7 linked regions of the Homo sapiens genome follow. The protein of the gene in region 1 purifies or fractionates together with the protein of each later gene. This does not show direct contact. Each region holds a gene or a part of one and is shown in the gene's direction. Other genes may lie near its edges.

Region 1 (4,412 bases):
GTAAAGTGAGGCTCCATCGCTTGATTTAAACCTCTAGTGATATACTGTTACCCGGCAGATAGATTTCAAATAGTTTAACATAGCACACAAGACTGTGTACTTCATAAGCCAGTCCTGGATGTCTGTCTAGCTATTTTGCCGTTGCCTTCCACCTTGTACTTTGCCTCCCATCATACTAAATAAGTTTTCTTGTTCTTAGTTCTTTGTCTTTCATGTTTCCAGGACTTTGCATAAACTGATCTCTAGCTTGGAATGCTCAACAATCCCCTTCCCAGAAATCATTCTTTCTCATTTTTCTCATTTATTTTTTATAGCTTTCTTCATTATCTTTGTATCTTTTTGTCATTCCTTTGTACACCATAAATCCTTCTGTTGTTGCACTTATCACATGGTATAGTAATTCTGGTTAAATGTCTGCCTCATCAACTAAACCATCATTCACTGGGAGTATCATCTAGCACTCAATAATAAGTATTTGTCAAATCAAATTTAATATGGGGATCCAAAGCCTTGAAGAGAAGCTACATTTTAGAAGAAAGGATTTGGTAGTCTTTGAATATAGATGGTAGTTAAAACGAGGCATAGTTTAACAGGCTCTCATTTAAGTGTGTATTTTGAAAAAAGTCAAAGCATACAACAGAATCCTGGAGAACACCAATATTTAAGAGACAGAAATTAGAAAAGGACGTTAGAAAATTGTGTTTAAAGAGGTAGGAAGAGAGAACTACAAGAAAGAATTGTTACAGCTGTTGAGTAGCAGTAGTCGTTAACCAGTGATAAATGCAGCAGAAGGTTAAGTGCATTTTGGATTTAGCAAATCTCACAGGTGACCTTTGCCACAGTAGCTTCAGTGGAGTGGTGAAAGCATAAACCATAGTAAATTTAGGGCAAGGGTTTTCAACCTTTGTACTATTGACATTTTGGTCTGAATTATTGTTTGTTTTAGAGGTGCTGTGCTGTGCGGGAATGTTTAGCGGCTTCTGTCTAGCCTCTAACCACTAGATGCTAATACCTCCCCCCACATTGTGACAACCAGTTGTGACAAGCCAAAATGTCTTCAGACATTGCCACTGTCCGCTAGGGCAAAATTATCTCTGGTTGAGAAACACAGAGTGGTGGGATCTGAGTGGGAAAGCGAGAAGATGGAGTATTGGGAATACACTACATTTATAATGAAGGTATGATAGCTGGAGGAAAACAAAGTCAAAGAATGGTTTTATGGGATGAGCATGCATACTGTCAACATTTCCCAAATATGTTTTTACTCCTTCTTTAGCCCTGGAAATATTGGAAAGCTGTTGGGTCCATTGCCCATGCATCCTGCGGCTGAAGATAACTATGGTTATGATGCGTGTGCTGTACTCTGCTTACCCTGTGTCCCCAATATCTTAGTGATCGCTACTGAATCAGGAATGCTGTATCACTGTGTCGTGCTAGAAGGGGAAGAAGAAGATGACCACACGGTAAGTGCAGGCTGCTGTGGTTGTTTGTATCTTCAACACCTGGCATAGTTCCTGACCCAATATGAATGCTTAATATATGAGAAGGAATTTTAACTTACTTATGGAACTTCTGATATTTTGGAAATTAAACAGTTAAAAAAGTAGCTGAAGCACACTTAGCAGTCTAAGTGGAAAGAAGTTAGAAGGTTGCCCAACTTACTTGGTCCACCAGTCTGCATGTTACTTTCTGGTCTCTATATTGCAATCTTCAGGGACAGATACAAAGAGCCTTGGAATCACTGAATTGGCTTTTTTCACAAACATCTTCCTAAAGGAAGAGAGACGTTTTGTCTTCAGAATAACAGTGCACTGTTAGGATAGAGGTGGAATTAAGAATTTGAAAGTACTGTTTGACCCAGCTTTTTTTTCAATTTTTTTATTTATTTTTTATTATTATTTTTTGGAGACAGAGTTTCGCTCTTGGTGCCCAGGCTGGAGTGCAATGGTGTGATCTCGGCTCACTGCAACCTCTGCCTCCTGAGTTCAAGCGATTCTCTTGCGTCAGCCTCCCCAGTAGCTGGGATTACAGGCACCCACCACCACGCCCGGCTGATTTCTTGTACTTTTAGTAGAGACAGGGTTTCAGTATGTTGGCCAGGCTGGTCTCGAACTCCTGACCTCAGATGATCCACCTGCCTCGGCCTCCCAAAGTGCTGGGATTACAGGCAAGAACAGCCGCACCCGGCCCTGACCCAGCTTTTTGCCTGTTTTTAATTGTGTACATTTTCAAATTAACATGCAAGATCAAAATTACAACACTTTTTTTTACAGTCAGAAAAGTCCTGGGATTCCAGGATTGACCTCATTCCTTCTCTGTATGTGTTTGAATGTGTTGAGTTGGAGCTTGCTTTGAAACTGGCATCTGGAGAGGATGACCCTTTTGATTCTGACTTTTCTTGTCCAGTCAAACTTCATAGAGGTAAGCTCTTCAATAAATGTAGTGCTTTTTTCCCATGATTTTTATACTAAGACTATCATAGACTGTTCCTATGTAATGTATTTGTTCTGTGGTTCCAGCCTTTAAAAAGTTGACTGGGTTTTTTTTAGCTTTTTAGTCACTATAGTACACTTTTTGTCTAAGGCAGACTGAGCAAATTTCCCAAGTTTTAAAATAGTGGTCTTTGGTCCAGATCACCAGATTCCTAATAGTGAATTTTTCCTGGTCCTTTCAAAAGTAGAACTACCATGTTATTCAGTAGTTCCACTACTGGGTATGTCAAAAGGAAAGGAAATAATAGGTTGAAGGGATACCTACACTCCCATGCCCATTGCAGTGTTATTCACAACAGCTAAGATGCTGAATCAACCTGTGTCCATCGACAGACCAAATGGATTTTGTTGTTGTTGTTGTTGTTGTTGAGATGGTGTCTGGCTCTGTCACCCAGGCTGGAGTCTAATGGCGCAATCTCGACTCACTGCAACCTCCATCTCCCAGGTTCAAGCGATTATTTTGCCTCAGCCTCCCAAGTAGCTGGATTGCAGGTACCCACCACCATGCCTGGCTAATTTTTATATTTTTATTTCATTTATTCATTTATTTTGAGATGGAGTCTCGCTCTGTTGCCCAGGCTGAAGTGCAGTGGCACCATCTCAGCTCACTGCAACCTCCGCCTCCTGGGTTCAAGCAATTCTTCTGCCTCAGCCTCCCTAGTAGCTGGGACTACAGGCATGTGCCACCACGCCCTGCTAATTTTTGTATTTTTAGTAGAGACGGGGGTCTCACCATATTGGCCAGGCTGGTATCGAACTCCTGACCTTGTGATCCGCCCACCTCGACCTCACAAAGTGCTGGGATTCCAGGCGTGAGCCACTACGCCTGGCAATTTTTGTATTTTTAGTAGAGGTGGGATTTCACCATGTTGGCCAGGCTGGTCTCAAACTCCTGGCCTCAAGCAGTCCACCTGCCTCGGCCTTCCAGAAGTACTGGGATAACAGATGTGAGCCACCGCGCACCTGGCCCCAAATGGATTTTTAAAATGTGGCATTGTATACACAGTGGAATACCATTTGGCTTTTGTGTGTGTGTGTGTGATATGATCTCACTGTGTCATCTAGGCTGGAGTACAGTGGCGTGATCTTGGCTCACTGCTTTGCCTCCCAGGCTCAAGCAATCCTCTCACCTCAGCCTCTGGAGTAGCTGGGACTACAGGTGTGCACCACCACGCCTAATTTTTGTATTTTTGGTAGATACGGGATTTTGCCATGTCGTCCAAGCTGAAAGTCCTGAGCTCCAGTGATCCTTCTGCCTCAGCCTCTCAAAGTGCTGGTCCACAGGTGTGAACCACCATGCCCAGCCCTATTTGGCTTTAAAAAAGAATGAAATCGTGTCATTCACTGCAACATAGGAGGATTTCAATCTTGTAGCAGTTTGACCTACTCTCCTTACAGTTCTTGTTAGCCAGTTTGCCTAGTTCTGGTAATAACGGCCTCAACTCTGTACTAAAGTATAGGCAAAACATTTAAGGGGGCAGAATTCCTTACATAACAAACCAGCAAAGAGTGTACATTGGGTTTGTCTAATTAAGGTATTTTGAGATTTATATTGTCTAAGAATTTTATAGATGAGGAAACAGACCAAATGAAGTAAAGTGACATAAACTAATTGGTTTCCTCATATAGATACGTATATCTTTGGGAAATCTTAAGTGTAGACGTGGACGTTTTGTTCTTGGGTTTTGTTTTTTGTATTTTGTTTTTTGTTTTTTTTTTTGAGATGGAGTTTTGCTCCTGTTGCCCAAGCTGGAGTGCAATGGCACGATCTTGGCTCACTTCAACCTCCGCCCCCTGGGTTCAAGCGATTCTCCTGCCTCAGCCTCCCAAATAGCTGGGATTATAGTCATGCGCCACCAGGCCTGGCTAATTTTTGTATTTTTAGTACAGATGGGGTTTCACCATGTTGGTCAGGCTGGT
Region 2 (3,500 bases), on another chromosome or scaffold:
GTTTTAATTAGTATTATGTGTTGAATGTTATTTGAATGTTCTTTTTGGTAAGTATTGAGAGTTTTGTTTTTATACTTGGCCCATTAATATATCACAAAATCATTCTCATAAATCCTTTGATAAATCCCATTTGGCCTTAGAGGATTATTTTTACAAATATTTTTTAAAATTAAGTTTTACTAGCATTTATGATTTTCTTTATCCATTAGTGAAATTGGTCTTTTTTTTTTTCTTTTGTGTGTGCGCTTTGTATTTATCTGTCCATTTTTCCCCTTACTTGAAGATACTGGTTCCAGAACTCTGTGCTATACATCCAATTCCAGCATCACTGTGGAGAAAAGCTGTTTGTCTCCCCAGCATACTTTATCGCCTTCACTGCCTTTTGACTGCAGAGGAGCTAAGAGCCCAGACTGCCAGCGATGCTGGCGTGGGAGTCAGATCACTTCCTGCGGATTTTAGGTATGCCTGTGCAGTCAGCCAGAAAGAACACAGATCATGAGATCCTGTTTGCAAAAGAACAGAATTAAGTTAAAATTGTATATAAAATAATTCTTAAAAGAGTAAAAAGAAAATAATGGATATCTTATGTCTTGTCAAGTCTCAGAGGGAGATGAGAATCTGAGGTCAGAAATAACCATTACTGCTTAAGCCATAACAGTTGGAGTGAGAATGAAATTGTTCTTTGTTACTGCATCAGCATTTTCAGTCTGTTTTTTCTTTTAAAAATCCAAATATATGTTAAAAAGCAATAGCCTTAGCATGTTCTTTGTCTTCATTATTTTCTTCCCATTAGTAAAATCTCTGCATTCTAAAGAAACTGTTGGCTTAAACACTCACATTAGTTCTGGTTATCCAATTGGCAATATCAAGACTGTTCTAGGGATTGAAGGAATTTTAAAATATAATAGGAATAACCACAATATTTATTGGTTAGTTGCTATAGTGCCAAACACTAGCTTAAATGCTGTACCCTGTGTTAGTTAGCTCATTTAATCATTAAGACAGTGCTATGAGATAGGAATTGTTAGCCCTTTTCTCAGGTGCAGAAGCTGAGGCACAGAGAGTTTATGTAAGTTGCCCAGAGTTACTCAGCGGGTTAACCAGAGTGCCTGGGATTCCAACCCGTGAAGCTAGGCCCCAGGTCCTGCAGGATGCCTGCAAGCTTCGTGACCTTCTTAACTACCACACCTAGAGTCTAGGGCCAGGGATTAAAGCAGTAGATAAAACCATGTCCCACTTTATAATTTACACTGTAAATTAAAAATTTGGAAACTTGCTTCTATTCTAAAGTTTAGGAGTACATTTTTGGGATCTTTGTTTTTGTTTTTAAATTCAAATTGCTGTTGCTCTCAGCCTAGCTGTTTTGAAGAATCTGATGTAAAGTTATAAAAATGTCTTTGCAGATACCCTAACTTAGACTTCGGGTGGAAAAAATCTATTGACAGCAAATCTTTCATCTCAATTTCTAACTCCTCTTCAGCTGAAAATGATAATTACTGTAAGCACAGCACAATTGTCCCTGAAAATGCTGCACATCAAGGTGCTAATAGAACCTCCTCTCTAGAAAATCATGACCAAATGTCTGTGAACTGCAGAACGTTGCTCAGCGAGTCCCCTGGTAAGCTCCACGTTGAAGTTTCAGCAGATCTTACAGCAATTAATGGTCTTTCTTACAATCAAAATCTCGCCAATGGCAGTTATGATTTAGCTAACAGAGACTTTTGCCAAGGAAATCAGCTAAATTACTACAAGCAGGAAATACCCGTGCAACCAACTACCTCATATTCCATTCAGAATTTATACAGTTACGAGAACCAGCCCCAGCCCAGCGATGAATGTACTCTCCTGAGTAATAAATACCTTGATGGAAATGCTAACAAATCTACCTCAGATGGAAGTCCTGTGATGGCCGTAATGCCTGGTACGACAGACACTATTCAAGTGCTCAAGGGCAGGATGGATTCTGAGCAGAGCCCTTCTATTGGGTACTCCTCAAGGACTCTTGGCCCCAATCCTGGACTTATTCTTCAGGCTTTGACTCTGTCAAACGCTAGTGATGGATTTAACCTGGAGCGGCTTGAAATGCTTGGCGACTCCTTTTTAAAGCATGCCATCACCACATATCTATTTTGCACTTACCCTGATGCGCATGAGGGCCGCCTTTCATATATGAGAAGCAAAAAGGTAAGAGATGATTTTTTTATTTTGAGCAGTTAATTATTCAGTGTGCCTGAAAGTGGTTTGCAGTGTTGGATAATCTCAGAGGATGAGAACGTATCATGCTCAGAAATTGCTACACCGGCCAAGCACAGCTGCTCCCTTGTTCTACCAGGGCCAGCGAAAGCCTGTGGCAGAACTACCTGGCAGTTGATGAGTATTGCTTTACACCAATCCCACACTCAGGTTTTGGGGCTTAGCTGATCTCCACGTGCCTTACTTTTTGATTGAAAGTCAGTTCAAAGGAAGCTATGCAAGTGTGTACACCCCTTGATCCTGAGGGGGATATGAAGAAATGTGCATTGTAGTCAGTCAAGGAGCTTCTGCTTTGTTGAGTTAAACATTTATTTGAGAGGGTACGTCTTGGCTTACAAGGCATACAGACATGAGTAAGACACAAGTCTTGTGGAGGAGCTCATCTCCAAAGTTTTGGAGAGTGGAGCGGAGAAGAGTAACAAGCTTCACAGAGCTTGGCTGCTCTCCAGTGTGAAGAGGGTGACACCAGAGTTCTGAGTAATTAACGCTCGATAGCTCAGAGAAAGGGCGGGCTCTTAAACTCAGCATGGACTAAGACTTAAGAAAAGGAATGAAGGTAAGATATTCAAGTTATGGGGGAAAAATGGAAAAAAGTCTCACAAGGCAACATGAGCCTCCTGGACAAATACCTTAGAAAGCTGCTGATCACTTGCAGCACTCAGAAGGAAGGAGCATCACTGTTGAATCAAGGATGGCATTAATGGAGGAGGCAAGTTGACAGTGCATAAGCAAAGTGAACAGATGGCAGAGCATGTCAGCGTCAGGGAAGCAGCCGTGGCAGCAGTCAGAAGTGTGGAAATACCTGAGAAAAGGCTTGAAAAGGCAGCTGGGGTGAAGCTGTATCGTGGAAGGCCTTGAATGCTGGGCTAAGGAGTTTGCACGTGTTTTGAATGTTGTAGGCACTGTTGAAGGAATTTAGAGCAAGGAACTATTAATGTTAATAAAGTGGTAGTTTAAAATGATTAATCTGGTAGCAGAATGTAGTGTGAGTTGAAAAGCATATCCAAACCAACAGCAGAAGCAGAGAATGGGATAGAACTAGAGTTCTGGTAGAGAGGAAGGGGCTGAGGTGAGTGAGAATTTCAGAAGAAATAATTTTAGCTAACAATTTAAAAGTGCTTACTCTGCACTACTCTAAAAGATAACCGTATACGCACACACACGTACACACACCCACATATATACACATATATGCATATAAACCTAATTTAATTTTTATAATTCTGAGAGGTAGAAACTTTTATTTT
Region 3 (4,862 bases), on another chromosome or scaffold:
AAGGTCAGAGTCCTCACACCTGCCATTTCTCAAATTCCATCAGCTTAAAACATTCAATATGCCAAGGTGTTATATTTTGGGGTAGTGTGCCCTGAACACCATCATAAACATGCTAGAAAAATTCTACAGCAAATTAGTGGACAAGGGGAAGGAGCTTAGGTATTAAAGATTGTGGAGAAGATCTATTAAAACACAGGGCCCCAATCCTCCTCTTAAGGAGTCTCCCCTTAAGAGACAGGGTTCACTTTCATCCCATATACTTCTGATTAAAAGGAGCCTCTTATACCCAGGAGAATACATTCCAGGTGCAGAAAGCCAATTACCTAGTTATTCCCTTACCCACGTAATTATAGACCTTAATCCAAATTCAAAGGACTCCTGGGAGATGCTGGAATCTGTAATTGTGTAATCTCTTTGATGAAGCACAGAGTGTGATCTTTTGCTCATGTGGGGCTAGGTTTCTGTGGAGAAGCTGGAAATGCTGTGGAAAAGGGCTTGCCCCTTTTGTGTATATGAACTCTAATGTAGTTGAAATTCCTAGAAGTCAAAGATATAAATCTAACTACTAAAATTCATTTAGTGCATTAAAATGCCAGTTATTAATTTACGGCAACAACTAAAGGGAAGCTTTGTATTATTCTAGGACTACAATGCAATTTATGCTTTGCATAATCATTCAGTAAATGACTTATTGCTCCAGAAATACCATCTTGCTAGATCCCATTCTGAATTCAGTGTTTCTGAGCAATCTCATCTCCAATACAGAGTGATGACATACTCAGGATTCCAAGACGGCAAAATGACTTGGGTAATGTAGTCTAGGGCCTGCCAGTGAGTATGCTGAGACAGACCAGAAAGACTTAAAGATTCCACTAATGTAGACAAAGCAAGCTGAGCCACAACTTCTCGGAACACCAACAGGATGCACCAACAATCGACAAAAAAAAAAAAAAAAAAGGAGATAAAGTTTAAAGTTTGTCTTCCAGCATTCCCTTACCCTATTTTCCCCTTCCTCTTCCCTACTTTATCAGTGGGAAAAGTTCTCAATAATGCAATTCTTACTGAGATTCTTGTGTTTATCAGAGAAATGTTTCCTCTTTCTTTGCCAAGGAATTATATATTCCCAACAGACATGGCGCTTGAATGCTATATTTCCTTTGGAATCAAGAAAGGGGAGGTGGGGGAATCAAAAATTAAAAACCAAACCCAAGCCATTGTTCCTCTTCGAGGAAGGGTGGGTGGTCAGTCGTCGCCTGAGCTCCGAACATCAACCCGCGGCTCTCAAGTTCCCCTCCCAGTAATGCTGGGCCCAGCCTCGCCGCGGCCGATCCAGCCTCTGCCCTAGGTGGAAGCGGGCCACCCGGTCCCTTCACCCACTGAGGCCCAGTCCTTTCGCCTCAACACGAAGGCACCTGGCCGGGCCGGAGCAGCAGCCGCGGGGCCGGCACTGGGGCCACGGAACCCCGGGCCAGACTCAGGCCTGGGCCAGCTCGGCTCCGGCCTGCAGGGGGCGCTGCGGCGGCACCGGCGCGAGGCCCGCGCGTGCGGGGAGCGACCCCAGGTGTAAGTCCCGGGGCGTGGGGCGCGTGGGTCAAGGCGGAGCGACCCAGGATCCCCGCGCCCGCGGCGGCCGCCGAGTGGCAGCGCTGGACTCGCGGAGAAGCTTGGGTACCTGAGCCGCGGTCCCGGGTGACACCCTCAGTGACGCCAGGCGCGTTCCTTCCTCTTCCTCTCTCCTCTCCGGCCCCGCCTTCCCTTCCCTCCGCCCACCTCCCTGAAGCGGAGCCGCCGTCGCCACCAGCGCCGTCATGTCGGCCCCCGCCGGGTCCTCTCACCCGGCCGCCAGCGCCCGGATCCCGCCCAAGTTCGGCGGAGCGGCCGTCTCAGGAGCCGCAGCGCCCGCGGGCCCGGGTGCGGGCCCGGCGCCGCACCAGCAGAACGGTGAGGCGGGCGGCCCGGGCGGAGCGCGGGGCCTAGCACCGGCTGGGCGGCCTGCACGGCCACATCGGGGCGGGGCGGGCCGGGCCGGGAAGGGCGTTCGGGGCCAGGCCCGGCCCGAGGGACGGGAGCGGGCGCGGTGCGGAGGCCGCGGGGTCCGGGTTGGGTGCGGGTAGGGGGCAGGGAAGGCACGGCGCGGGGCGCGCGGGGGTGGGACGCCCCTGGCGTGGGGGCGGGGGCCGGCCTGGGAAAGCTGGGGCCGTGGCTGTTTATGTAATGCGACCCCAGGCCCGAAACGGCCTCGGGCGAGTAGGGGCGACTGAAAAGCTGGGAGCCCACGTAGTAAAACCCAGTTACCTAGCCTGGACGCGGGCGAGTTGCCCCGAGCGACCCCTTGGCTGCGAGAGCTGGCCAGAAGCCGAGGCCGCTGAGTGCGTGGTCCGGAGAAGGCTGGTGCAGCCACCCAGCAGGGTGGATTGTGCCCTTCCTGTCTCAGGAAAATTGCTTCGGTTCCCGAGGCCCAGCGAACACGCTGCCTTGAGGAAACTTAAGTTTGCACTCAAGTTTGTAGACAAAAGGGTGTAAATATGCTATATAAGTGTAACTGTAACCCTGACCCAGTTCGGCCTCAAGAACTGTCATTGCCGCTGCGGCTGCTGCTCAAGCTTTTGGAGTTTGCTTGTAGTGTTTGAAAGGGAGCAGATGTAAACGGATTTAAACGAACATCTTTAGATCTGGGTGTTTTTCCTAGCTCCACTTTCAGAGATGAAAAAACGTGCCAGAGTTGGCCCTGCTTTGAGGCAGGGCCTTCATACAGGCAGCAGCCAAATGCAGCACGAAAGCCGCTTTCATATTAAGGTCGTGGGCTTTTAGTAGGCTGCAAAATGATGGATATGCATTCCCTAATGCTGAGATTTGGAATGTTCGCGGATAGGGGCCAAGGGTGGAGGAATTCTCCTTACAGACTTCTTAGTATGTCAGATGAGAACCTTGGAAAGTAATTGACTGAATTTAGAAAAATACCTCTGTCCTGTGTTGGTACGAGAACCAAACTGCATTAGTACTCTCCAGATGATTGACCTGTTTTATCTAATTTCCTAATGAAAATCTGCTGGACTTTATGAATTAGTTTAATCAACATCTAAGTTTTACAACTGATGCTTTTCAAACATGAAGTGTATCGTTTGTCCTGAGGATCAGAAGTTGAGTGATACTTTAGCCTTAATATTCTTTGGATCAGCCTTACCTATCAGTATTACATGCTGTACTCTCAGTAGTCATTGTTTACTATAATCGCTTTTGGATATAAACCTGTTCTGAACAAATGTAAAAATACTATTTGTGAGCAGTGTTTGTTCTTGTAACCTTAATATAAGTTCTTGTTTTTGTTTGTTTTTAAAATAGCTTTATGAAGGAACTAGAACACGATAATTTAGTAAAAGAGCCCAAGTCTTTTAGAACATTGTAGACTCATGTTTACCAGTGATTCAAGGATTGTGTCTTTCCTTGATTTTCTGAATATGCATTATCATCTTAGTGAACAGTTTTTAAAGTGGCAAATGTTTATTACAGCCTTATAAATTTTGTGAACACTCAAGAATGCCAGGATATGTACTCAGCCAAGTGTAATCAGGATGTTAAAATCTGTAAGAACAAATCAATGTTTTGATGCCAAATATAGATGATGCTTGAGTTCTCTTGTTTATAATCACTACTTTCCTTTAATGTTGCAATAATCATTTCAACATTTATTGCATGCTTACCAGTTGGGGACTCAAGGTTAGGGTAGCAGATGAGACAGAGTCCCTGCCTCTCTCCTGACTTGCCCTGTATTTGGTAATGTTTGAATTGGTTCTGGCTAGCCTTGAGGGACTCGACAGGTTGGGGTGGGAGGGAAAGGTTGACTCTAGGCAGAGGTTACAGCATGAACTAAAGTTTGGAAATATGAAAGTGCAGGGCATGCTTGGAAAGTGGAAGGAGTCAAGAGGTGCAGAGGGTGCTGGGTGGCATGGGAAGCCAAGGCATCGAAGCCGAAAGGAGCAGGTTAAAAGGGGTCAGGTTGCAGAAAGGCCTTAAATGTTATGCTAGGAAATTTGAAAGTTATGGTAAAGTGTAAGAACTAGGGTCAGGTAGAGTACGAGGTCTCCCTGTGTTGCCCAGGCTGGTCTGCTGGGCTCAGGTGATCCTCACACCTTATCCTCCAGAAGGATTTTTGTTTTTGTGGAAGGGATTAGTTTAAGTAGAGAAACAAGATTAAATCTCTTTTTGTTTTGTTTGCTAATCTCAAAAAAAAAAAGTTTGCTACGTGGTATCAGCATGTAGTAAGCAGTCATTTGGGTTTCTCATTTATTTTTCAGTCCTACAAAAGTAGTTAGCCTTTTAATATATCTCTATGGAATTCCAGACATGGTGAAAAAGAAATAGGTCAGAAATATGAGCATAAAACAGACAGAATTGTAAAACTGGAATGGTACCTAGAAATCACTCACTTCAGTGTTGTGGTGTGATATGAAATACGTTTGGCCTTTGTCCTGGGTTCCTGTAACAGCTCCTAAAACCCTTGTAATTTCCTGAGTGATAGGAGTGTCGCTTGCTACTCATAAGGAGTCTTTTGATCACATTTGAGTTTGTGCTAATGAGATGACTTAGGATGGGTCTCCTAGACAGCCTCAGGCTGGAGCTGGTAACCAGAAAGACCAAGTAATTAGAGAGTTGGGACTTTGAGTCCCCACCCATCATCCCCTTTGAAGGGGAGTGGATAGGCTGGAGATGAAGCTTTATAAAAACTCTGGAACAGTAAGATTTGGTGACCTTCTGGGTTGCTGAACATGTGGAGATGCTGGGAGGGTGGCGGCACCTGCCCCCATCCTTTGCCCTGTACATCTCTTTCATTTGGCTGTTCATCTGTATCCTTTGTAATATCC
Region 4 (4,412 bases), on another chromosome or scaffold:
TGAGGCAGAAGAATCGCTTGAACCCAGGAGGCAGAGGTTCAGTGAGCCGAGATCGTGCCATTGCACTCCAGCCTGGGCAACAAGAGCAAGACTCTGTCTCAAAAAAAAAAAAAAAAAAAAAAAAACTATTTTTTTTTAAGGACTGCTTTTTTTTCTTCTTTTTTCTAATACAACTGTAACACCATTATCATAAGAGAGGAAAAAATAACAATAGTTTCTTATTATCAAATATCCATTAGTGTTTAACTGTTTCTGATATCTCATAATTAAGTTGGCTTGTTTGAATCAGTATCCAATACTAACAGATTGTATTTAGTTGGTCTATATTGTTTTCCATTATCTTTTCATATATTTTTTTCACATTTTTTACTATGAATGTATTCATTTTATAATGATGAGTATATCTGTTTTTTTGGAGGTATGGTCTTGCTCTGTTTCCCAGGCTGGAGTGAAGTGGTGCAGTTATAGCTCACTGCAGCCTCCAGTTCCTGGGCTCAAGTGATCATCCCAGCTGAGTCTCTCAAGTAGCTAGGACTATAAGCATGTGCCACCATGCCTGGCTAATTTTTATTGGTAGAAATGGGGGTCTCGTTATTTTGCCCAGGCTGGTCTCAAACTCCCGGCCTCAAGCCATCCTCCCACCTCAGCCTCCCAAATCATCGGAATTACACACATTAGCCTATGCGGCTGCTGGCTGATATATCTTTTAAGTCCCCTTTTATCCATAGGTTCCCTCTCCTCTTTTTTTTTTTTTTTTTGCTTTTTGTCATTTAATTTTTCGGAGAAACTGGATTATTTGTCCCTTGGAATTTTTGGCATTCTGGGTTTAGCTGATTGCATGCTATGGTGTCATTTGATGTGTCTGACCGTCTTCCGTGTACACTGGTAATTTCTCGAGGCTTACTCAGTATTTGATTCAGTTTGACAATTCTTTGTTCTTCCTGTTGCATCATGTCAGGAGGTCTGTAATGTCTCTCTGGCCTCTATTTCACTGATATTAAGATCAGGGAGCGTGTACTTTCAGATTTCCCTGAAGACTGCGTTTCCCAAAAATATTTTTAAAAAAAGGAAGAAAAAAAGATCAATCGGTGTATTGAGGTGTTGTCTGTCTGATCCATTTGTTTAATGTTCCCCATTAGCTTAGCAGGTATCACTGATCATTTGCCAAGTTCCTTAATTCATCAGGGATGGCACAGTGATATTCTAACATTCCCTCTTCATTTGAGGGCTGGACGTTTTCCATGAAGAAATTTTTTCATCAGCTCTTTAGCTACCCTGAGGTACTGTTTGTACAGAAAAGGCAGGAAAAACACTTGATTCTTTCCTTTTGTTTACTGGTTTTCAGAGTAATAAATTTGTTCCCTCTTGTCATCCAAAGGTGAACAGTGACGTTTTTGTTTTGTTTAGTTTAGTTAGTATCATTAGGAATTCTTAGATTTTAACATATTTGATATCTTTGAATACATTGCTTTTTTTGTTTTGTTTTTACTAGAGGTGGGGCCTTGCTGTGTTGCCCAGGCTGGAGTGCAGTGGCTATTCACAAGCAGGATCCCACTACTAATCAGCCCTGGAGTTTTGACCTGCTCCGTTTCTAATCTGCGCTGGTTCAACCCTCCTTAGGCTACTGGTCCCCTGCTCCCGGGAGGTCCTCATACTGATGCTGACCTTAGTGCAGACACCCAACTAGCATAGCATACTACAACCCTTGACTTCCTGGGCTCAAGCGATCCTCCCGCCTCAGCCTTCCGAGTAGCTGGGACTACAGGTGCACACCACCATGCCTGGCATATTGCAGTTTTAAAAAATGTATTTATTTTAAAGCTCAGATTGCCCCAACTTTGGCCAGTGGAAGTCTCTTCAAATTGGCTCCTAAATCCTTTGAATGTAACTCCAGTGGTCTTTAATGATTTCCTTGCTATCTAGGATCATGCTGCCCTCTAGGATCATGCTGCCCTCAACTTGAAATCATCCATTTTTCTTAGGAGCTCTGTTTCTTTTTAGTGCAAATAATGTTTAGAAACCACAGTTTTGATGCTAGAAATACCATTTGCCTAATGGATTGCTTGTTGTTTCTAGGCCTTCTCAGTGGACAATTAGAAAATATATTTTGTTTTGTTTTGTTGGAGAATAGGCATTATGAATTCGGATTTATATTCCTAATTTGGATTTGTAATTACTGGATTTCTGTTTAACTTCTTGGATTTTGTTGTTTTTTTTTTTTTCTGGAAATCTTGATTCTTAACAGCATTAACATAGATAATTAATTGTTCTATCGTTTTAAGATAGCAATAACCATATGATTACTGAAAACAGTTTAAGATTTCCTTGCCCATTTTACCCTTAGAATGTTTAGCACATTATTTTCTGGCGCGTTCAGCTACCAATTTGATACACCGGTTTATATGCATTGTTTTGCTTTTGATTTTTAGTTATTGCTTTTTAAATTTTAGTTTAATTCTGTTTTGTGGATATGTGAAACATTTACATAGTTTCAGAGTTAAATCTGCAAAAGTCCATCCCCACCAACCCATATATAGTGGTATTGCTCATTCTTATTTACAACTTGAGAGTATTCTATTAGATATTTCCTTCAGGATATATCTATCATAAATATTTAATCAGCCAGTCTCCTGTTGATAGACATTTGGGTTGTTTCCAGTATTTTGCTGTTATAAGTAGGCAGCTATTTTTTTTTTTTGACATCTTCTAATTTGTTAACCCTTTAACTTTGCCCCAGTAGACAAACAGTATCCTCCCAATTGACTCTAATAACTACGTAAAGTATACGGGATGTTCAAAGATACAGTGTTGACCTTAGTTCATCAGCAGGCCCTTATTTTGAGCTCTGTTTGTGTATGTAGCACATAGCCCCTAACAGTGGGGATTAGAGAGACATATAAGAAGTGTGGGCCAGATACAGTGGCTCATGCTTGTAATCTCAGCATCTTCAGAGGCCGAAGCGGGAGGATTGCTTGAGCCCAGGAGGTCGAGACAGCCTGGGCAACATTGTGAGACTGTGTCTCTACAAAAAATAAGAAAAAAAATTAGCCAGGCATGGTAGTGTGCACCTGTGATACCAGGTACTTAGGAGGCTGAGGTGGAATGATCACTTGAGCCCAGGAGGTCAAGGGTGCAGTGAGCCGAGATTGCTTGCACCACTACATCCCAGCCTGGGCAACACAGCAAGACACTATCTCAAACAAACAAACAAAAGGAAGCGTCATAGAGCACACTGGCTATTTTGAATGTTTAAGGAAGTTTAATAAAAATGGAGCTCTTGGGAAATAATTTTTAGTAAGACTTGAGATGAGTCTTAATAGTTGAGTTAACATTTAGGTTATTCTTTTCAGTGTCATCATTGCTTCATCCTGTTCAGGTAGGGAAGCATTTTAATCTTGGCTACTTCAAATCCCTTTATAAGAAGGATTACCTCTATGATTAGGAGATCGTTTATTAGCTCCTGCTATACTCTAGCTTATGGAGTCACATGATGTTTAGTCAGATAGCTTCCCTTAGGCAAGGCCCAGAAACCCACTTGGAAGGCCAGTCTGTAGTGCAGGAGGCAGCCTGGTGCAATGGATGGAGCCTAGCAGTGTAAGGGACTGCTGCTGTGTTGTATTTTAATTCCCTGAGGTCTCTATCATGAGATTTTAGGCCTAGCCTCAAGACTTTTCTACTTGCCCTTGCCTTTGGCTTTAGCACTGGTCTTCATTGTTTTTGAGACATTTGTCTTTTGTGACTATTATTCTGGGACAGGCCCTTATTCATCTCCTCATTTCTTGCTCAGTTTCAGGCAGTACATCCAGCAACCCAGAAACCAGCAATTGCTCAGTTCCCTGTGGTGTCCCAAGGAGGCTCTCAACAGCAGCTAATGCAGAATTTCTACCAGCAGCAGCAGCAGCAGCAACAACAACAGCAACAGCAACAGCTGGCCACAGCCCTGCATCAACAACAGCTGATGACTCAGCAGGCTGCCTTGCAGCAAAAGCCCACTATGGCAGCAGGACAGCAGCCCCAGCCACAGCCAGCTGCAGCCCCACAGCCAGCCCCTGCCCAGGAGCCAGCGGTAAGAATCAACCAGAGCTCAGAGCACAAAAGCAGCAGAGGAATGTGCAGCGAGAGCTAGGGGAAGGGTGGGAAAGATGGCAGCAGCTGATGAGGGTCCAGGTTGCTTTCCCACCTGGGTGGTTCAATTATTTGATCTTTCCTTGATATATCCAAGAATAGTATGGATGTTCTATAGAAGATAGAGGTTTTTTTAAAAAAGGATTCTAGGCTACTGATGAAGAGCCTTCTTAATTTTTATCACTCTGAAACTAGGCTAGCAGGAAGATCTGTTCATCATCTCTGTCTGTGTCACTTTGAACAGTCAAGGACCTAGGCAGGATTAAAGCTAATCCCTTTCTCTTCTT
Region 5 (4,412 bases), on another chromosome or scaffold:
GCTGTCCTTATTCCCTGACTGCAAAATCAGGGAGGAAATGTCCAGGTTTCTCAAGTGCCCTGAGCAATGTGAGGAAGGCAGACTCCAAGGCAGTTTCTCAGAAATCCTGAAGAGCTGCCTGGGTGGCTGGGTCTTCTGTGGACCCATGGGGGCCACCAGGGGGAGAATTGTAGCACTTGGCCCATCTCCTCAACATCTGCCTCTCAGCCACACTGTGTCCCAGGCTGGATAGCCCAAGGCTGTCAGAGGCACCTGAGGAGCGGTCTTTCTACTCTCTTAGGCAAACAAGATTCCTCTGCTCCGAGGACTGTATCCGCTCAAGCTGCACACGAATGTTAGGAATGACTTTCAGCTGTTAGTAACAGAGCCCTGGCTGAAGTAGCTGCAGTCAGATGGGGTGCGTTTCTCTCTCATGTAAGACAAGTCTCTAGGAAAGGACTCCAGGTGGGTGTGCTGCGGCAGGTTGCACTGGCTCCTGAGAGCTGATTGTGTGCATCTCATCCCAATGCCAAGTCCAACTACTACTTCACACTGATGGCTTGAAATCCACTTGAGTGGGAACATTTACACCATGGAAATTGGCACTGTTGGGGATTTAAAAAAAAAAGTTTTTCTCAGACAGCCAGCTTCCTAGCATGTCACTGAGTAAACCGATGGTGTGGCAGCCCCACAGTCATCAGGGACTCGGGCTCCTTCTTCCTTCTACTCTTCTGGTTTCAGCTTGTGACTTTGGTCTTTACAGTTGCCTCATGGCCTGAGATGGCTGCCAGAGTTCCAACAATTGCATCAGCATGGGCTCTCAAAACAAGCAGCTTGTATTTTTCTATCTTACCCCCATTTTCATGGCTGGCTCCTCCTCATCCTTCTGCTGTCACCTCCTCAGAGAAGCCTTCCCTGGCCACCCTACCTAAAGTCCCCTCCATCTCACACTGCTTTATTTTCTCTGCAGGACACACCATATTGGTAACCTCGCTCCTTTATTATTTTCCTTGTTTGTTGTCTGTCTTCCCCACCAGACTAGTCCCTATGATCAGGGACTGTGTCTGTCTTGTCCTTCGCCATAATCCCAGTGCCTCAACAGTGCCTGGTACATAATAGTTGCCCAAGAAATGTTTTTTAAATGAATAATTGATAGTAATCAAAGATAATTTTGTTTCCTGCATTCTTCCATCAGCATGTCATCATGAATATTTTCCCATGTTGCTGCCTAGTCTGTAAAATTAATTGAACTAGACATTTACCAAGGCCCTCCCTGGTCTGACAAGCTGAATGAGTGGGAGGGAGGTGGATGTGAACAGGTAAGTCAGCCTTCCTGGCACTGCTCACAGCCCAGACTGACTTGGGGAACTCAGAGGCCATTTCCAGGAACTTCATTCACGCAGCAAGCGTCATTGAGTCCCATCTCAGTGCCAGGCTGTTGCTGGGTGTGAGGTATATGGAGAGGGAGCAGTAGGAGCCACCCTGGAGGACTTGTGGGCCAATACGGGGACGAAGAAGAGACAGACAGGAGAACAACTGGCGATAATACAATGGGCTAGATTCCCAATGCCTGCAGACAGCTGGACCCTGTGCTAGGGAGCACTCACCTCCACAACCCATTTATCACTTGACAAATAATCACTGAGTCCCTGGGCATAAGGCAGGGAACAAGCCAGACAAGATTCCTACTACTCTCATGAAACTCACATTCTAGTGAGGAGATAAGCAATAAACACACAGTCAAATATATTCAGACAGCAGAAGGCGCAAGGAAGACCGTGAATCCAGATGTGTGACAGGGTATGAGGAGGTGCCACTGTGCGTGGGGCGGTCAGGCAAGACTCTTCAAGGAGGTGGCATCTGAGTTAAATTAATGGTACAAAGGAGTCACCGTGAGAAACTCTGAGAGTGGAGGCCACCAGCCAGAGGGAATAGCCAGGGCATAGTCTGAAGATTGGAACGAGCTCAAGATGGTGGAGGCACAGGAAGAAGGCCACTGGCTGGATGGGAGTGATGGGGGAGGGTGTTGGAGACAGAGGTGGGATCAGAGGGTGCCCCAAACTCAGCAATCAAGATGAATAGTATTTAATGCAATATTTCTTAAATCAAAATTAATGCAAAAAACCCACGATGAACAAAATTCAACATTTCAAACAAGGCCAGGATCACTAACAATGCTCTGCTGAGCCACACTGGAACCTGAGACAAAGGAAAAATCAGTGAGGCTGATTGTGTTTTTATTTAAAATTTTGATATCTTGTGTGTTGTGGATTTGTTGTTATTCATCGCAGGAGTCATCATGGTAGAAAACGTGTCACCTGGCATCAAGATCATGGTCTCCACAACCAGGCTGTCCGGGTTCCAATTCCTTCTTTACCATTATATGTTTATCTGTATGCTATGGGGCCAGTTTCTTGACCTCTCTGTATCTTTTTCTCCATCAGAAGATGGAGATAATAATTGTGCCTCCCTTAGGGTTACTGAGAGGCCCAAATGATTTAATATAAGCAAAGAGCTAAGAACTGTGCCCAGCCCACTGTAGCCCTCGGAGAATGTTGGCAGCTAGTCTGTAGCATTGGACTGGTACAGCTTTGGTTCCTTAGAGCAGTGGTCCCCAACCTTTTTAGCACCAGGGACCAGCTTCATGGAAGACAATTTTTCCACAAACCGCAGGGGGTGGGGGTGGGGTGATGGTTTCAGGATGATTCAAGCACATTACATTTATTGTGCACTTTATTTCTATTATTATTTCATTGTAATATATAATGGAATAATTACACAACTCAACATGATGTAGGATCAGTGGGAGCCCTGAGCTTGTTTTTCCGCAGCTAGACAGTCCCATCTGGGGGTGATGGAAGACAGTGAGTGATCATCAGGCATTAGATTCTCATAAGGAGCAGGCAACCTAGATCCCTCCCATGTGCAGTTCACACTCCTGTGAGAATCTAATGCCACCACTGATCCAACAGGAGGTGGAGTCAGGTGGTAATGCCAGCGATGAGGAGCGGCTGCAAATACAGATGGTTTGCCCCTCCCCACCACTGTTCATCTCCTGCTGTGCGTCCAGGTTCCTAACAAGCTATGGACCAATACCCACCTGTGGCCTGGGGGTTGGAGACCCCTGCCTTAATTCTAAGCGGGGATCCAGGGCCAAGTGTGGGGAGCCAGAGAGTGTGTATGTGGAAGTCGATTGTCACAGAAGCCTCTAGGGTGGCCAAAGAGGAGGAGGTTGTTGCAAAGATGCAGGTGAAAGATACGGACGGGTTCTGGAGGTGTTTAGGAGACAGACTCTACAGGACTTGCTGGTGGTTGAACTGTGACGGGAGGCAAGTGTTGGAGGTTGGGGACAGAGACCAGGCTAACCCCCAGCGCCTGGCAGTGGTCAGGGCTGAATGCCTGGGCCAGGCATGGCCCCTGCCCCCATCCCGGCCCTGTGTGTGTTTCAGAGGGAGCTGAAGGACCAACTTCAGGCCCTTCAAGACAGCGAGCGGGAACACACCGAAGCGCTGCAGCTGCTCAAGCGACAACTGGCGGAGACCAAGGTGAGCCTGGCCGGGGCGCGGAGGTGGGGCCGGCAGAGATGAGGGCAGGGCTTCGAGGGGCGGGGCCAGCTGGGGAAGAGGGGCGGGGCCTCGGGTGTGCGGTGGAAACCTGGCTTCAAGGAGCCAAACCTGGAGTGAGAAGGGCAGGGTGGGGAAGAGGGTAGGGCATCCGTGAAGTTCAATGGGGCGGCACCCACCCCATCATGACTGGCGGCAAGGATGTGGGCTGGTCCCTCGGTTAAGGACGGGGCCATTTCTCCCTTCCCACTTTGGGTGGAAGTTGAGGCGGGTCCCGGGACCCTCCGGAAACCCCCTGCCTCCTGAAGGGCTGGGGAATGTGCTCAGTCTCTTTCTCCTCTCCCCTTATTAAAACCGCCCAACCCTGGTGTTGTGACACACACTTGTAGTCCCAGTCTCTTCAGAGGCCGAGGCAAGATGATGGCTTGAGCCCAGGAGTTTGAGACCAGCCTGGCCAATATAACGAGATGCCTTCTCTACAAAAAAAAAAAAAAAAATTGAATATAGCCAGGCGTAGTGGCACATGCCTGTAGTCCCAGCTACTCTGGAGACTGAGACAGATGGGAAGATTGCCTGAGCCCAGGAGTTTGAGGCTGCAGTAGGCCATGATCATGCCACTGCACTCCAGCCTGGGTGACAGAGTGATACCCTGTCTCTAAAATGAATGAATGAATGAATGAATGAATAAGCCCATTGCCTAGGAGTCAATCCTGAGCATGTCCCCTCGAAGCCCTCCAGAGGTGGCCCAGCCCTGGTATCATCTCCCCTTAAGCTCAGGCCATGGGATACAGACTCTGAAAGGTAGGGCCAAACTCTGCAGTCTCTGGCTACCGTGGTTTGGGAAACAAACAAACAAACAAACAAACAGAC
Region 6 (4,412 bases), on another chromosome or scaffold:
CAAATTGAGCTCAGGAGTTCGAGACCAGCTGGGGCAACATGACAAAACCCCATTTCAATAAAAAATACAAAAACTAGCCCAACATGGTGGGCATATGCGCTTGCAGTCCCAGCTCCTCCAGGGGCTGAGGCAGGAGGGTTGCTTGAGCCCTGGAGGTCGAGGCTGCAGTGAGCTGTATTTGTATCCCTGCATTCCAGCCTGGGTGACAAAGTGAGACCCTGTCTCAGGAGAAAAAAAAAAAAAGAAATTAATGTAGCTTCAACAGTAAATACAAGTCATGGACTGGCTACTGCCTAAGCAGTTCCTAAAGGCCTGGTGTGTGCAGACACCCAGCTAGGCACTGGGGGTGTAGTGGTGAACGGCACAGACATGGTCCTTAGCCTTGAGGAACTTAAGGAACTTCCAGCCTAGTTGGGAGAGATGAAAAAGATAAAATATTTTTCAGTAGTGGCTTGGCTGCTGCAAAGTTGATTTACTGTAGGTAATCGAGACAAAGTTTATATAATGTCATCCTATAGCCCATTAAAACAGAAAAAAAAAGGTGTAATGAGGTTGGTGTTCATAAGTACGAAATTGGTGTTTCTGTATGAAGGGCAATGTTAATATCTATTGCTAGAGTAATCACATTCACATGCTGACATGTTTGGTTTACAGCCAGAACGGTCAGGAAATTAAGCTGTTTATTTTCTGCCCTCTTGATAAAAGTCACACTTTTACAACATAATTAAGCAGAATGCCAAGCCATAGCTTTCAGCTATAAACACTGCTTTTAACATTAGGTAAGTAAGCTCATCCGGGGAGGGTTTTGTTTTTGTTTTGTTTTGTTTTGTTTTGCCATTGTAATTAACCTCAGTAGGATGAGCAGCTGTTTCATATTGCTCAAGCTGCAGGTAGCCTTGTTTCATTCTGAAGTGAGCTTCAGATACATGGTTGATTGTATTACCCCCAGCTACTGCTTAAGACCAAAGTAGAAGGTTTTTCTCCACCCTTGTAAGTATTTGTTTTCTGGAATTCTGGGAACTTTTGTTTCTGATAGGATCTAGAGCTATGGACATTTGTCCTTGGCATCCTTAGAGGCTTCTTTTGGGATCAGTGTAATTCCTGATTGAAGCCCAGTGCATGCATCAGAGAAGGCACTTCTTGACCCTTTTCTTCTTTGAGGTTAGGCTTCAGCTGTCTTAGAATGAGGCTGATTGAGGGTCTCCAGAAGGTCAGTACTAGTAAGATCTGAAGACTTAAGATTTTGCCCAATGTGAGCTGGTCCTTAAAAAGCAAATCCTTTGTATTCCTTTCTGAAGTCTTGCTGAATGCCGTTGTAGCAGCCAGGGTTCCTCATTGCAAAAAACAGAAAACACTTCTGTTAATGCACTGAATTTGGGATACTGAGTCTGACAGAATCTCCCAAAAGGCTGGAGAAGCAGGCTTGGAAAATGGTGAGAGAACCAAGAGCTGTGTGTAACTACCCCTAGCAACTAGAAGCTCCTGTCACTCTTTTGCATCTCCTCCTCCAGGTTCAGTGACCCAGGTGGGAGTGTCAAGTAGCTGGATCTCACTCACAGGTCCATGACCTAGCTGCTGGAGGTGGGGACATGGGGGAGGTTGGAGCAAGTGAAAAATTGGTCTTTTTAGCTTCCTTCAATTTGGGGGTTTCGGGGGTTAGTGCTCAAGATGTAGTCCTCTTCCCACCTGCCAGGGACTCGGAAGCTGCATGGTTGCCCATCTTGTTTCTTTCCTTATCCTGCGTTGCCCTAAGGTAGGGAAACCTAGCTGTCAAATCCCTTTAAACCAACATACTCACTGCATACACATCTTACAGTTAAAGCATGCCTAATTGCCCAATGTTTTATACAGAATTATTTGCTCAACTAATACTGCACAAGGGTAGAGAATTAAAATGAAAGGCTTTATGTTTAATATGGTCTATTAACTGTGGAGGGCACTGGAAATTGCCAGGCAGGTATAATAGAAAGTAGGTCATTTATTCACCACTTAGTGTAAGTGGTTTTTTCTTTTCTAGTAATAGCCATTCATTTTATCTGAAACTAATCTATTTTTAGAATCCTAACAGCTGGTTCCGATTATAAATGTTTTTTAGCCTCTGTCACACCAAGAACTTCAGAAACGTCTCAAAAACATCATATAATGTCTACCAATATACTGCTATTAAGAAACATCTTGCATACATTCTTCAGTATGCAAAGGACATTCATATCATGGACATGAACATCTTTATTAAATAAAGGCTGGGCCGGGTACGGTGGCTCATGCCTGTAATCCTAGCACTTTGGCAGGCCGAGGTGGACAGATCACCTGAGGTCAGGAGTTTGAGACCAGCCTGGCCAACATGGTGAAACCCCATCTCTACTAAAAAAAAAAAACAAAATTAGCCAGGCTTGATGGCACATGCCCATAATCCTAGCTACTTGGGAGGCTGAGGCAGGAGAACCACTTGAACCTGGGAGGCGGAGCTTGCAGTGAGCTGAGATCATGCCACTGCACTCCAGCATGGGTGACAGTTAGACTTCATCTCAAAAAAAAAAAAAAAAAAAAGGCTGAAGCCTGGTTTTGGTTCAAAAAGAATCAACAATATGAACCCATAAAATGAAATACCTCACAATAAAGCCAGAAATCAATATAGTCCCTTTAAACCTCTAGTTTTACTGATACATAATTTTTTCCCTCTTCAGGTGATGTTCTGATTAGTGTTGGCCATGCCAATGTGTTAGGATATACTCTTCGAGAATTTTTACAGCTTTTGCAACATATCACTATTGGAACAGTGCTACAAATCAAGGTTTACCGAGATTTTATTAACATTCCTGAAGAATGGCAAGAAATATATGATTTAATCCCTGAGGCCAAATTCCCAGTAACAAGGTAAATAGTTCATTTTAGGAACTCTTTGTTATAATACAGAATCCCAGGGCCTGTGAGGCATAGATGGTTTAATGTGACAATTATCAAATGATAAGGATCATGACAGGAGGACTGGTGACACTGTCAGAGTAATTTCCTGGGTTTCTGGTATTAGATCTGTAGGATCTAATATGAGAAAGCACGATGAAGTCAACCTGGAGTTAAAAAACAAGTCATCGGTTGGGAATTTTGTCCCCATGCCTACCTGTATGGTGCCCCTCTTTCCCGAGTCAGCCCTTAAAAATGCTTCTTGTGGGCCAGGTGTGGTGAATCATGCCTGTAATCCCAGCACTTTGGGAGGCTGAGGCGGGTGGATCATGAGGTCACGAAATCGAGACCATCCTGGCCAACATGGTGAAACCCCGTCTCTACTAGTAAATTACAAAAATTAGCTGGATGTGGTGGCGCGTGCCTGTAATTCCAGCTATTCGGGAGGCTGAGGCAGGAGAATCGCTCGAATCAGGGAGTCGGAGGTTGCAGTGAGCCGAGATCGCACCACTGCACTCCAGCCTGGAGATAGAGCGAGACTTTGTCTCAAAAAAAAAAAAAAAAAAAAAAAGTGCTTCTTGCAAATCCTATTTTCTTTTCCGTATTCAACTTTTTGTTCTCTGGGTCCTTCCCAATAACATCTAAGCCTTTTTAAACTTCTCCCATCTTGGCAAATCCTATCTTCAGTCCACTCTCCTCTCCCTACCCTCTTTAGCCACTGGAGTCTTTTGCATCCACTCCCAACTTGCTAAAAGCTGTATTAGACACCTCTGTTTCCTCGAAAGACGCCACTTCCCAGACACTCCTCCACCCACTTCAATCTAGGCTTTGCTTTCATCCCTTGGCTGAGTCCTTTTCCCAGGGCCACCCATAGCCTTCACACTTCTGATCCCACTAGATTCTTCTGTCTTTATCTTGCTTGGCTTCTGAGCAGCATTAGACACTTAACAATTTCCACCCACTCTCTTCTTGAAATAGCACTTCCCAGGCTTCTGTGACACCACACTCCCCTGATTTTCCTGTTACCTCTGGCCATTTCCTCTTGGTGTCCTTTCTCCTAGCCAGTTTCATTGATGCCTGTGGTTTCTATGACTATCCACATGCTAATTACTTTCAAACTGTATTATCACCAAAACTGTATTTTTTTTTTCTTGGAGACGAGGTTTTGCTCTTGTCACCCAGGCTGGAGTGTAGTGGCGTGACCTTGGCTCACTGCAACCTCTGCCTCTCGGGTTCAAGTGATTCTCCTGCCTCAGCCTCCAGGGTAGCTGGGATTACAGGCGCATGCCAACACACCCAGCTAATTTTTGTATTTTTAATAGAGACGAAGTTTCACCACGTTGGCCAGGCTGGTTTCGAACTCCTGACCTCAGGTGATCTGCCTGCCTCGGCCTCTCAAAGTGTTGGATTACAGGCATGAGCCACCAAGCCTGGCCAGAATGATCTTTTTGTAATGCAAATCTGATCCTGGCATGTTCCTGCAAAAAATCTCTTAAGACTTTTTGTTC
Region 7 (4,412 bases), on another chromosome or scaffold:
CCTGAACATCATCTTTCCCTCTTAAATGTTCTTGATTCCTTTTTCTTTCTGAATGTCACCCATTAGGGCACAGGTCTGATAATTTTATCAATGCCAGTAACCACTTATCCCTTACTATGCACCAGACATAGTGCTAAGTACTTTATATATATTATCTCATTTAATCCTTATAGCAATCTTGTGAGTTATTATCTCTACCTACAAATGAGGAAATTGGAGCTTAGAGAGGTGAAGTGACTTGCCCAGGGACACACAGGTAGATAGTAAGTGGTAGAGTTAGAAATTGCTCCTTCAGGCCGGGCGCGGTGACTCACGCCTGTAATCCCAGCACTTTGGGAGGCCGAGGTGGGCAGATCACGAGGTCAGGAGATTGAGACCATCCTGGCTAACATGGCCAAACCTCGTCTCTACTAAAAATAAAAAAAATAGCCGGGCGTGGTGGCGGGCACCTGTAGTCCCAGCTGCTCAGGAGGCTGAGGCAGGAGAATGGCGTCAACCCGGGAGGTGGAGCTTGCAGTGAGCTGAGACCACTTCACTGTAGCCCAGCCTGGGTGACAGTGAGACTCTGTCTCAAAAAAAAAAAAAAAAAAAAGAAATTGCTTCTTCAGATCAGGTTTGCTCTCTCTTACATTGCATTATTTTACTACAAAAACTTCTCCTTTTCTCTTTAATTTACCTCCCTCTTCTAGTCCCACCCCAAGTTTTCTTTCTTCTCTTTTTTCCCTTCCTTTTTTGGTAATTTCCCCTTTAGGAGTTATTTACAGTTTTGCATGTCAGACATAAATTCTCTTGGGAAAAGTATGCAGAAATAATTCAATTGTATTCTGATTTCTTATAGACAGGGATTTACTCTTAGCACTTATTTTAAGAATAATACCAGGAGCCCTTATATTTGTATTACACTTTATAGTTTTATGAAGCGTTTTTACACATTTCCTTACTTAATCCTCATAGCAGTCATGTGGTCTAGGCAGTGAGGGTTATGGCTATTACACCTATTTTCAGGTAAAGAGAGGAACTCAGATTAAAGTGACTTGTCTGAGATCTCAAAATAAGAGACAGAGCCTGAATTTAAACTTAGGTCTTTCGACTCTAATATAAACACTTTATTTAACACACTGGTCTTCCTTGTAGAGTAAAAGCTGCTACAAGCAAATCGTTCACTAAGGCCTCTACAAAATTAGTTGATGAGACAAGGTTTTTGCCCTTAGCAATTACAGTGCTGAAATAAATGATATAATCAAATGTTCTGACTTCATTTAAGCCAATTAGGAGTGGGTAAATATCATTATAGCATGGCATTTTCTAAAGTTTTAAGCCTTGAGCTTTGTTTTGTTTTGTGAGAATTGAGAACCTGGAATTTTAGTTCTGCATTTTAAATCATGAAATGTTAAAGTCCTTAATTCTTAAGTTATTGTCTATCTCATTGTGCACTCAATTGCTTACATTCTAACTAAAACAATTATGATAAAGGAATAGGGTGAAGGGAGGACAGACATAAACAGTGAAATTAAGGAATTGGGAATCCTAACAAGGGCTTGCTGAGGTATCTTACAGTAGCACTTTTTTTTTTGAGACGGAGTCTCGCTGTGTCACCCAGGCTGGAGTGCAGTGGCGCGATCTCAGCTCACTGCAAGCTCTGCCTCCCGGGTTCACGCCATTCTCCTGCCTCAGCCTCCCGAGTAGCTGGGACTACAGGTGCCTGCCACCACACCTGGCTAATTTTTTGTATTTTTAGTAGAGATGGGGTTTCACCGTGTTAGCCAGGATGGTCTCAATCTCCTGACCTCGTGATCCGCCTGCCTCGGCCTCCCAAAGTGCTGGGATTACAGGCATGAGCCACCATGCCCGGCCTACAAAAGCACTTTTGTAGAAAATTGAATATGATCCTTAAAAGAATGGATAAGCTGCAAGTAGTATTCACTTCTGGAAAGTGATAATGTTTGAGAGCTCAGACAGCTTATTCAATGATCCATTTTTGACATACTATCTTGTACTAGTGTCTGTTTTATTAAATTAATTTTTACTAGCAGTGTTCATTTTTACTTAGTTAAGTGTCTACCCACTGACCTGCTCCCATTGTGGAAATACCACACCGTGTTTGCCCCTTACGACTTTTCTGTATTTGGCAGCAGAGGCTGGTTGCTCAGTTTATTGTAGTACTAGGGAGTTGCCCTTTGTTGTGTTTTTCACAACAGCGATCCATTTCATTTGAACATTTTCAGATCTGGTTGAGGATGTTCTCCATATGTCGACTCTTATCTAGACAAACAGAATAGACTTTTTCTATTTTTGTGGCTAGAGTGGAAAATTTTAGTACTGAATTGCATGTATATGACCCATTGATATTCTTGATACTGGCAAATCCTAAAGGAATCACAGACTCATAATATTTTAGTGAGGTTAATCATCATAATTCATTATTTATCAGCTATTTGCAGGGCACTGTGTTAGGTACCATGGCAAAATAGAGACAAATAGATGTTTGGCCCTCCATTTAGAAAAGTTCAGTCCAGTAAGAGGTATAATGTATGGGTACAAATGACTGTAATTCAAACAGAAAGTGACAACGGAGTAACAGGGTACTGTGGGAGCAGAGGAAAGAGAGATTGCTTCTGGCTGTAGAGATTAGGAAAGCTTCCTATATGAAGTGAAATATGAATTGAGCATTTCAGAGTGAAGGACATGCCACGCAGAGGGATTAGCATAAATTGGGTGTATCTGTACAGCACCTGGTAAGTTCTGTTAATTATCTACTTCTCTTTCTGCTCTGTTGGATTTGAACCCTTTGAACTTAGAGAATTGATGTTTTCCAGCTTTTCATTCTCTACTTCACCACCTGTTCAACTTGGTACATTAATTACTTAGAGTTGTAAGTGGCAGTAGTGTATATGGAGTGAATTCAAGGAAAGAGAGTCCAGAAATGGGAAGACCAGTGAAGAGACAAATAATCTAGGTGATAATAATGAAGTTCTAAACTAGGTGAGATTGGGAAGGAGAGACTTGCATGGATGGGTCTCTCTAGTGAAAGAACCTAGGCAGTTCTTTCACTGTGAATTGTACATAAAGTACATACCGTGTGCCAGGAGATATGGAAAGGGAAAGACATGGTGCTCCCTCAGAAGCTGGGCAGGTGACTGGAGAGCTACATTCACAGGGGTAGAAATAGCTGCAATCAGGCATAGCAGCTGTCATGAAAGAGCAGTGAGAGGCACACCTAAGGGAGAGGGGCACCTACTTGGGATAGTGAGAGAAGCTTTCCAAGGATGTGTGAGTGTTTGAGCTTAGACTTGAAGGGTGAGGAGGAGTGTTTCAGGCCGAGAAGCCTCAGGCGGGTATTATCACATAGTGATGTAAGACACGAAGCATATTAGGGGGCCACAGGAACCGGAATTGTTGCCGTGATGCTGGACAGGAGCAATGAACTTTTATTTGCTGTCTATTTATGTTTATCCAGCTTTAGCACTCTGAGCTTTTGTAAGAAAGTGTTTCTGTTGCCTCTAGTAGCCTCTTGGAAGCACCTCTTCTGTGCTTCTCACTCCCAACCTGGAGTGCAGTGCTGGTGATAAATTGTCTCTTGCTTCCATTTTGTGAAATTAAACAGAAAAAGTAAAGATACCATCAGCCAGAGAGATAAAGAGAAAAGTAAATCCACTAAAATCCTTTTCTTTGATGAAGCCTAGAACCACCGAGGTTGTTGTATAAAGAGAATGCTGCATCAAAGCACAGCTTCAAGAGCACCTGACTTGAGGGAGGGGATTGTGGTAGGAACATGATTATTTACCTTTCCCATAGGGTTTTATGGAACTCTTAAACATTTCCCAAGACTGTAATACCTAATAATGAAGTCCTTTTATTCTAGTTCTAGCCTTGATTCTTTTCTCCTCTCTACTCTAAGCCTTATTATTTTTTAAAAATAACACAGTTTAATAACTAACATGACCCTAAACTTCAGATGGTGTCAAACATCATCTCTGGTCCTCCTCTATCCTTGTTTGGTCATTCAGAGACCTGTATGTGCAAATCGTTATTATAAACTTTGTATGTATAATCTACGTTAGATTGCTAGAGATAAAAAGCACTACAGATTTCTTTTTTACATAGATTTACTTTCTACAGTGGTTATTTTTTTTTCTGTCCTTTGGATTGGACCACTGAAACAGAATATAAAGTTGTTTTCTAAGGACAACCAAAAAGTTAATGGTAGTCTCTAATTCAAATTATATCCATTGTATTTCTAGGCCAGCGGTTGGCAGCTGTTTTGGCTTTAGTGCCATTACTGGTAATACTAAAAGATCATGGGCACTCTCAGGAGGAAAGTGAAAGGAACAGAAGGAGGAAAAGCGGGCTTGTGGGGTGGTAGGGGAGGCACAGAGAGGGGGCGGGAGAAAAAGTACATATGGTTAAAAGAG

What was found.
Region 2: the proteins of NUP88 (region 1) and DICER1 purify together in Homo sapiens (co-immunoprecipitation; one large-scale study listed by IntAct). This does not show direct contact.
Region 3: the proteins of NUP88 (region 1) and SEC24B purify together in Homo sapiens (affinity purification with mass spectrometry, with the first as the bait; one large-scale study listed by BioGRID). This does not show direct contact.
Region 4: the proteins of NUP88 (region 1) and AAK1 purify together in Homo sapiens (affinity purification with mass spectrometry, with the first as the bait; one large-scale study listed by BioGRID). This does not show direct contact.
Region 5: the proteins of NUP88 (region 1) and TRIM62 purify together in Homo sapiens (affinity purification with mass spectrometry; 2 studies listed by BioGRID and IntAct, with this or other methods). This does not show direct contact.
Region 6: the proteins of NUP88 (region 1) and PDZD9 purify together in Homo sapiens (affinity purification with mass spectrometry, with the first as the bait; one large-scale study listed by BioGRID). This does not show direct contact.
Region 7: the proteins of NUP88 (region 1) and STK38L purify together in Homo sapiens (pull-down; one large-scale study listed by IntAct). This does not show direct contact.

Annotation. Positions count from the first base shown.
Region 1 is NC_000017.11:5,402,108-5,406,519, reverse strand, and holds part of NUP88 (nuclear pore complex protein Nup88), read left to right. Parts: intron 1-1,276; coding exon 1,277-1,463; intron 1,464-2,273; coding exon 2,274-2,421; intron 2,422-4,412. UniProt on the Homo sapiens protein: Component of nuclear pore complex.
Region 2 is NC_000014.9:95,102,030-95,105,529, reverse strand, and holds part of DICER1 (endoribonuclease Dicer), read left to right. Parts: intron 1-283; coding exon 284-459; intron 460-1,403; coding exon 1,404-2,184; intron 2,185-3,500. UniProt on the Homo sapiens protein: Double-stranded RNA (dsRNA) endoribonuclease playing a central role in short dsRNA-mediated post-transcriptional gene silencing.
Region 3 is NC_000004.12:109,432,062-109,436,923, forward strand, and holds the start of SEC24B (protein transport protein Sec24B), read left to right. Parts: upstream 1-1,753; 5' UTR 1,754-1,808; coding exon 1,809-1,941; intron 1,942-4,862. UniProt on the Homo sapiens protein: Component of the coat protein complex II (COPII) which promotes the formation of transport vesicles from the endoplasmic reticulum (ER).
Region 4 is NC_000002.12:69,514,125-69,518,536, reverse strand, and holds part of AAK1 (AP2-associated protein kinase 1), read left to right. Parts: intron 1-1,490; exon of another isoform or gene 1,491-1,786; intron 1,787-3,787; coding exon 3,788-4,066; intron 4,067-4,412.
Region 5 is NC_000001.11:33,164,583-33,168,994, reverse strand, and holds part of TRIM62 (E3 ubiquitin-protein ligase TRIM62), read left to right. Parts: intron 1-2,199; exon of another isoform or gene 2,200-3,428; coding exon 3,429-3,524; exon of another isoform or gene 3,525-4,412. UniProt on the Homo sapiens protein: E3 ubiquitin ligase that plays a role in antifungal immunity by mediating 'Lys-27'-linked ubiquitination of CARD9 downstream of C-type lectin receptors; leading to CARD9 activation, followed by activation of NF-kappa-B and MAP kinase p38 pathways.
Region 6 is NC_000016.10:21,987,067-21,991,478, reverse strand, and holds part of PDZD9 (PDZ domain-containing protein 9), read left to right. Parts: intron 1-2,687; coding exon 2,688-2,877; intron 2,878-4,412.
Region 7 is NC_000012.12:27,250,425-27,254,836, forward strand, and holds part of STK38L (serine/threonine-protein kinase 38-like), read left to right. Parts: intron 1-4,412. UniProt on the Homo sapiens protein: Involved in the regulation of structural processes in differentiating and mature neuronal cells.